Homo sapiens: one gene and its partner. The protein of the gene in region 1 interacts with the protein of each later gene in a biochemical or structural test. Each region holds a gene or a part of one and is shown on either strand. Other genes may lie near its edges. The genes, in order: REPS2 and EPS15.

Evidence for each region.
Region 2: the proteins of REPS2 (region 1) and EPS15 interact in far-western blotting, tested with the Homo sapiens proteins (one study listed by BioGRID).

What each region holds. Positions count from the first base shown.
Region 1 is NC_000023.11:16,949,364-16,953,191, reverse strand, and holds part of REPS2 (ralBP1-associated Eps domain-containing protein 2), read right to left. Parts: intron 1-3,828. UniProt on the Homo sapiens protein: Involved in ligand-dependent receptor mediated endocytosis of the EGF and insulin receptors as part of the Ral signaling pathway. By controlling growth factor receptors endocytosis may regulate cell survival.
Region 2 is NC_000001.11:51,355,112-51,358,939, forward strand, and holds part of EPS15 (epidermal growth factor receptor substrate 15), read right to left. Parts: intron 1,736-3,828; coding exon 1,589-1,735; 3' UTR 1-1,588. UniProt on the Homo sapiens protein: Involved in cell growth regulation. May be involved in the regulation of mitogenic signals and control of cell proliferation. Involved in the internalization of ligand-inducible receptors of the receptor tyrosine kinase (RTK) type, in particular EGFR.

The DNA of each region.
Region 1 (3,828 bases):
AATCTAAAACAGCATATAGTTAGTCCTAGTTACTGGTTTGTGTGTTTGTGTGTGTGTGTGTGTGTGTGTGTGTGTGTGTGTGTGTGTGTGTTTGTTTTTTGGTTTGTTTGTTTTTGAGACAGAGTTTCACTCTTGTCTCCCAGGCTGGAGTGCAATGGCCTGATCTCAGCTCACTGCAACCTTCGCCTCTCCGGTTCAAGCAATTCTCCTGCTAATTTTTGTATTTTTAGTAGAGATGGGGTTTCGCTATGTTGGCCAGGCTGGTTTCAAACTCCTGACCTCAGCTGATCTGCCCGCCTCGGCCTCCCAAAGTGCTAGGATTACAGGCAATGAGCCACCCTGCCCAGCCCCTAGTTACTGTTTTAATATGCTGGCCTCTATTTCCCTAAAGTATAGTTACAAAATGATATGATCTAAAGATGTAAAAATATAAAGTTGTTTCATTTAAATTTTTAAAAAATAGTTCTGCCTAATAATCTAGCAATGAGCGAAAGTTCACAAGAATTTGTCTTTTACCTATAATTTTCTTTAATGATTAAACAGTTGCTTCAAAAAATCAGAAGAGAGCCTTCAGAAAAGACTTCTCCCCAAAGGTGAGGGCATGCGCACAAATTGTTTAAATATTCCCTACTTCTCACAGCTTTGTTTTACTTATTTACCTCAATGAAAGCTGTTTAAACAATCAGACAACACTTATTGGGTTTTTTTTAATCATTCAGTGATTTCCCTTGATATGGAAGCAACAGTGTTTTATAATTATTCCCCTTAATGTCCAAGAATTAACTATCACAAAAATGAAAACCAACATGGATGAAGCCGGAAACCATCATTCTCAGCAAACTAACACAGGAACAGAAAACCAAACACCGCATGTTCTCACTCATAAGTGGGAGCTGAACAATGAGAAAACATGGACACAGGGAGGGAAACATCACACACCGGGGCCTATTCAGGGGTGCAGGGCTAGGGGAGAGATAGCATTAGGAGAAATACCTAATGTAGATGATGGGTTGATGGGTGCAGCAAATCACCATGGCACATATATATACCTATGTAACAAAACTGCACGTTCTCCAAGTGTATCCCAGAACTAAAGTATAATTTAAAAAATTAATACAGATGAGATCTGGAGCATATGTGTATAATTACATAAGTCATGTATGTTTTACATGAGCATAGAAAATGTAAAAAGATATGCACAAAATTGACTTTTTTATATACTCTTCTGTTACTTGGCTTTGAAAAAATAATGTTCCCATTTTTGAATTTTAAAAGAAAACTCCAATAAGATGTGTATATGTTAAAAAAATTTTTTTAATGAAAACCAATTTTAATGATGACTCATGCACAGCATTCCAAGAGACTGACACTATCCTAAAAGATAGATATTATAAAGCGGTCTGTTAATTCATTACATCAAATACAAAACTTGCTGCTTTAAGGTAGATATTTTATTTATTTACTTATTTATTTTATGAGACAGGGTCTGGCTCTTTCACCCAGGCTGGAGTGCAGTGGTGTCATAATGGCTCATTGCAGCCTCAAACTCCTGGGCTCAAGGGATCCTCCCACCTCAGCCTCCAGAATAGCTGGGACTACAGGCATGCCCCAGAGAGAGGTAGGTAGCGGGGGTGTGTGTGTGTGTGTGTGTGTGTGTGTGTGTGTGTGTGTGTGTGTGTGTGTGTGTGTGTAGATGGGGTTTTGCCATCTTGCCCAGGCTAGTCTAGAACTCCTGGGCTCAAGTAATCCTCCGACCTCAGACTCCCAAAGTGCTGGGATTTATAGGCGTGAGCCACTGGGCCTGGCCATAGCCTATTTTGAAAGGTCTTTTGGTCTCTTTATAGAGTATTTATTTCCCTGTGCTGACTTATTTTAAGAGCAGGATTCTAGCACTAGGTGGAAAATGGCAGAATGGGATACTTTTAAACTAGAAAAAGAAAATATGTCTACGAACAGGTAAATGGTTTTGTTTAGTATTTCAAGACAGAGCAACAAACGTTAGAGTAGTTGGTTTCCCAGGTTATGAAGTATTTTGTTGGTATTCAAAGGCCAGAATTTTACTAGAAGGCATAGTGTGTGGTAAGAATCAGGTCTGGGTTTGACATGTATTTGGTTTGGGTTTGACAGGCTTATTTTACTTTATTTTGATACAGGGTTTTGCTCTGTTGCCTACGCTGGAGAGCAATGGTGCGATCATAGTTCACTATAACCTTGAACTCCTGGGCTCAAGCAATTCTCCTGCCTCAGCCTCCAGAGTAGCTAGGACTACAAGCGCATGCCACCATGCCCGGCTATTTTATTTTGTGTAGAGACAGGGTCTCACTATGTTACCCAGGCTGATCTCAAAGTCCTGGCCTCAAGCAATCCTCCCATCCTTGGTCTCCCAAAGCACTGGGACTACAGGCGTGCGCCACAGCACCAGGCTGACATTTTATTTTTGGATGTTATATTTCAAGTCTTTTCTCAACCAAATAAAAACTCTGAAGTGTAAAAACATTCACATGAGAACATAAGCTCCATGAAGACAGAGATTGTGTTGGATTCACTATTATAACCTCAGCACCTAGGACAGTACCTGACACACATCAGAAACTCATATACGTTTTCCACCTAGTGCTAGAATCCTGCTGTTAAAATAAGTCAGCAAAGGAAAATAAATACTCTGTAAAGAAACCAATGCATTGCTGATGGGAACGCAAAATGGTACAATCACTTTGGAAAGCAGTTTGGCAGTTTCTTATAAAACTAAATATACTCTCACCATACAATCTAGCAATCATGCCCCTTGCTATTTACCCAAATGAGTCAAAAGCTTATCTCCTGCATGTAACAAAAAAGGCTGCATACAGATGTTTATAACAGCTTTATCCATAATTGCCCAAACTTGGAAGCAACCAAGATATCCTTCAGTAGGTGAATAAATAAATTGTAGTACATGCAGACAATGGAATATTATTCAGCACTATAAAGAAATGAGCCACCAAACCATAAAAAGACATGAAGGAATTTTAAGTGCATAGTACTACATGAAAGAAGCCAAAGTGAAAAGCCTATATACTGTATGACTCCAACTATATGACATTCTAAAAAAGGCAAAACTATGGGGACAGTAAAAAAAAAAAAAAAATCAGTGATTGCCACATGTTAGTGGAGAGGGAGGGATGAATCAATAGAGCACAGATTTTTAGAGCAGTGAAACTATTCTGTATGATACTACAATGGTGGAACCGTCATTATACATTTGTCCAAACCCACAGAATGTACAACACCAAGAGTGAGCCCTAATATATAGACTTTGGGGAATAATGAGGTGTCAATGTAGGTTCATCAATTGTAAAAACTCTATTATTCTGATGTGGGACGTTGAGAGTAAGGAAAGCTACGGGTGTGTCGGGGCAGGGGATATATGGGTACTCTGCTAAATTTTGCTGTGAACCTAAAACTGCTCTGAAAAAAAAAAATAGTCTATTAAAAAATATGTTAAGGCCAGGCATGGTGGCTCACGCCTGTAATCCCAGCACTTTGGGAGGCTGAGGCGGGTGGATCACCTGAAGTCAGGAGTTCGAGACCAGCCTGGCCAACATGGCAAAACGCCGTCTCTACTAAAAATGCAAAAATTAGCCGGGAGAGGTGGCGTGCGCCTGTAGTCCCAGCTACTCAGGAGGCTGAGGCGGAAGAATCGCTTGAACCCGGGAGGCAGAGGTTGCAGTGAGCCAAGATCACGCCACCGCACTCCAGCCTGGGCAACAGAACGAGACTCCATCTCAAAAAATAAATAAATAAAAAATAAGTATTTTTATAGACCATTTACTTGTGGTAAGAATGCAA
Region 2 (3,828 bases), on another chromosome or scaffold:
GTTTCTATTTACAAAGGTAGAAAAAAGTTAGCAGTGCAAGATAGTGGTTTAAAGTTTGTTTTAAACTGTAGGAGTCTAATTGTGTAATGGAAAGAAAACAAAACAAGCACCATTTCAAGAAGAAATGAATTGGATATTTTGGAATTTATTTATAGGCTAGGCAATAAGTTACTCAGATTAACACAGATCAATACCACCTTGACTTGTTGACCCAGAGAATTCTAATTAGATTTTAGGTGCATTTTTCTTTATCTTGGTATTTAATACATCATCTAAGTCAGTAACCGTGTTAAACAAAATTAAAATGACAAGTTACAGCTTACTTCACAGTCTATTTCAAATTCAGCTTGTCCACTAGGTCAGTTTTACAGGAGATGGTCTTTTAACATGAAGAGGTCTGATAATCTGGCAGGTCTCTTCTCTCCCAATTAAAAAAACAAGAGTTTTTTTGCTAGCTTGACAATTTTATAGGTGAAAAACATGAAGTGAGTAAATAAACTAAACCACAAAGATGGACAAAAAGCAATATGATATAAAACACATCACTTTTTCTATTTGTATTCAGTGAAAGTTTTTACATTTCAAGTAAATGAGCCTTCATTAAAAAAAAAAAAACAAATATATATGAAAAATTAAAGTACCTTCCAGTTCTAGCTTGCTGAAGTTTCTTCTGCAAAAGTACAAAAATTAACCCACTAAGAACTAAACAGGACAGGGCCACGGCAAAGGCAGAATGGCTGCCATGTTAAGACTTTTGCTTGCCTTATACTGATGGGTATATTTTAGGTGATAAATTTTCTCCACTATCTATCACTTAAAATGAACATTTTCTTACAAACTTTATTTGTAAGAAACTGATTTTTATTAATTAGCAAACACACTGAGAGGTATCTGTTGATCTAAAATTCTCTAAATCCAGATAAATCTTTTTAAAAATTTATTTCACACATGAGGCTTTAATATTTTTAGTTAGGAAAAGATCGAATCTGAGGCTATAATGGTTCAACCTACAGCATCCCTTTTCCATAGTGGAGTAAATCTGTGCAAAATATTTTTCCTTATCTCTGAAAAACAAATTAAGTAGAGGAAATTTAAAAATGCACTTTAGCCAATTTGCACCAATCATAAAAGAAATAAGATATTCTTTCCCTTACCCTCACTCAACCATTCCAATCAGGGGAGAATACTGCAAACTTTAAGAACCTCACTGGCTATCATCAGAATAACTACAGAACAGGGTAGTGCAGGGTGAAACTATTTCTCTATATTCCAGAAGGCAGAAGCTTGGGTGCTCTAGCTTTACAAGTAAAATAGCACAGGCAGGCAAAAGCTCACAGTAAATGTATACCAGAACAGGGGCCTAAGTGAAGGTGAATTTGTCTGACTGGGTTACGGCTTTTATAAGAAAAAAAAAAAAAGACGAATCTGTAATGAAGAAAAAAAAAAAATCCTAAAATTTTGTCACATTTACAGGAATCTCAAACCTTTTGTATTCCCATGCTCACAGGTAGTTTTGATACACATTGTAAATAGTTTCAGTATTCAGGAAGAAGAATACTATATTGTTGCCAAAGAACAAGAGAATTCTTCATGCTTCTGATATCTCAGATTTGCTGAGTGCAATAGCCAGTTCTAAGTCTTCTTGTTCCTGCTGATTTAGTCGGGCAAGCCTCTGCTCTTCCTCTCTCTCACTTTCCCTCTTGGCCCATTCGATCATATCTTCTTCAGAGGGATACTGCCATTTAAAAGATCGATGAACAAACGAATAAATAAATGAGTAAAGCAAGTAAAAAGAAGGAAAAATAGTTTTTACAAAAGGACACCTGAAGGACTCTGGAAATAGTCTGGTTACTTGTTAATTCTTTTTTTTTTCCCCCTGAAAACATGTTTAATATTAACCAGTTATTAAGCTATAGTTTAATTTAAAAAATTAATTCAATCTATAGATAGAAAGTCTATAAAACTAAATGTTAAAAATGCCACTAGGCTAGATGTGGTGGCTCATGCCTGTAATCCCAGCACTTTGGAGGCTGAGGCAGGTGGATCACCTGAGGTCAGGAGTTCGAGACCAGCTTGGCCAACATGGCAAAACTCGCTCTCAACTAAAAATACAAAAATTAGCTGGGCATGGTGGTGGTGCCTGTAATCCCAGCTACTTGGGAGGGTGAGGCACATGAATCACTTGAACCCAGGAGGCAGAGGTTGCAGTGAGCCGAAAATGCACCCCTGCACTCCAGCCTGGGTGACAAAGTGAGATTCCATCTGAAAAAAAAAAAAAAAATATATATATATATATATATATATATATATATATATTTTTTTTTTTTAAATGTGATATATATATATATATATCTCACTAAAAAAAGTAGAAATGCTTATAGTAGATTAGAAGATTTAAAAACAGGACAGGGCTAGCCTTTTTGACCTAATGTAATGTAAAATATTTACCACTTCAACTTTACTGAGACCCTCACACAACAAATCATTTTTAATTTAATCCCACTGGTAGTTTCCTAACCCTTAATGTGTAAAAAAGCTAAGAAGCAAGAAAAAAAAAAAAAAGCTGATTTTGCTATACATCATATTAAAGTATTGGGTATACTAAGCAAGATGTGATTTAAACCTAATCTTTTTTTTTTTTTTTTGAGACAGAGTTTTCGCTCTTGTTGCCCAGGCTGGGTGCTATGGAGCAATCTTGGCTCACCACAACCTCCGCCTCCCGGGTTCAAGCGATTCTCTTGCCTCAGCCTCCCGAGTAGCTGGAATTACAAGCATGCACCACCACGCCCGGCTAATCCTGTATTTTTAGTAGAGATAGGGTTTCTTCATGTTGGTTAGGCTGATCTCGAACTCCTGACCTCAGGTGATCCGCCCATCTCGGCCTCCCAAGAACCTAATCATATTTTATAAAAAGCATTTTGAGCCAGGCATGGTGGCTGACATCTGTAATCCTAGTTCTGTGGGTGTGGGCCAATTGCTTGAGCTCAGAAGTTCAAGAAGTTCATCTTGGCAACATGGCAAAACTCTGTTTTTACAAAAAAAATTAGCCAGGTGTGGTGGTGCACATCTGTAGTTCCAGCTACCTGGGAGGATCACCTGAGCCTGGGAAGTTGAGGCTGCAGTGAGCTGTGATCATACCACCGCTCTCCAGCCAGATCGACGGAGTGAGCCAAAAAAAATAAAAATAAAACAAAAAGCATTATGAAGATTTCTCCAGGCTTTGGGAACTTTTAGACCAGTCTAAATAAAATCTTAACACTCATAATTATTATGTTGGGGAAATATTTTTATCTACCCCAAACAGCAACCTTGGCAAATACTAAATTAAAAATTCTAATTGGTTTCAAGTCTTGTTACATAGAAAATCCTTCATGAAAGGATGAAATAAAATACACTGTCAGGCTTTTGAAATGGTAGTTTTTTTCCCTAGGGAATTAAGCAAAACTTTGAAACGTGTAATGCTTAACCACATCTTTCACAATGAAAAAAGAAGATGTTCTTATTATAAGCTGTTTTTTATTATACTATATTGAGATTTTGGAGCAAAATGCCTCAGCTGTTGTTCAAGACTCCTTCCAACCAGATTTGTTTTTTTTTGTTTTTTTTTTTTTTTTTGAGGCGGAGTCTCGCTCTGTAACTCAGCTTGAGGACAGTGGCACTATATCAGCTCCCGCAACCTCTGCCTCTGGGGCTTAAGTGATCCTCCCACCTCAGCCTCCCTAGCTGGGATTACAGGCATGCGCCACCATGCCTGGCTAATTTTTGTATTTTTAGTAGAGACGGGGTTTCACCATGTTGGCCAGGCTGGTCTCACACTCCTGACCTCAA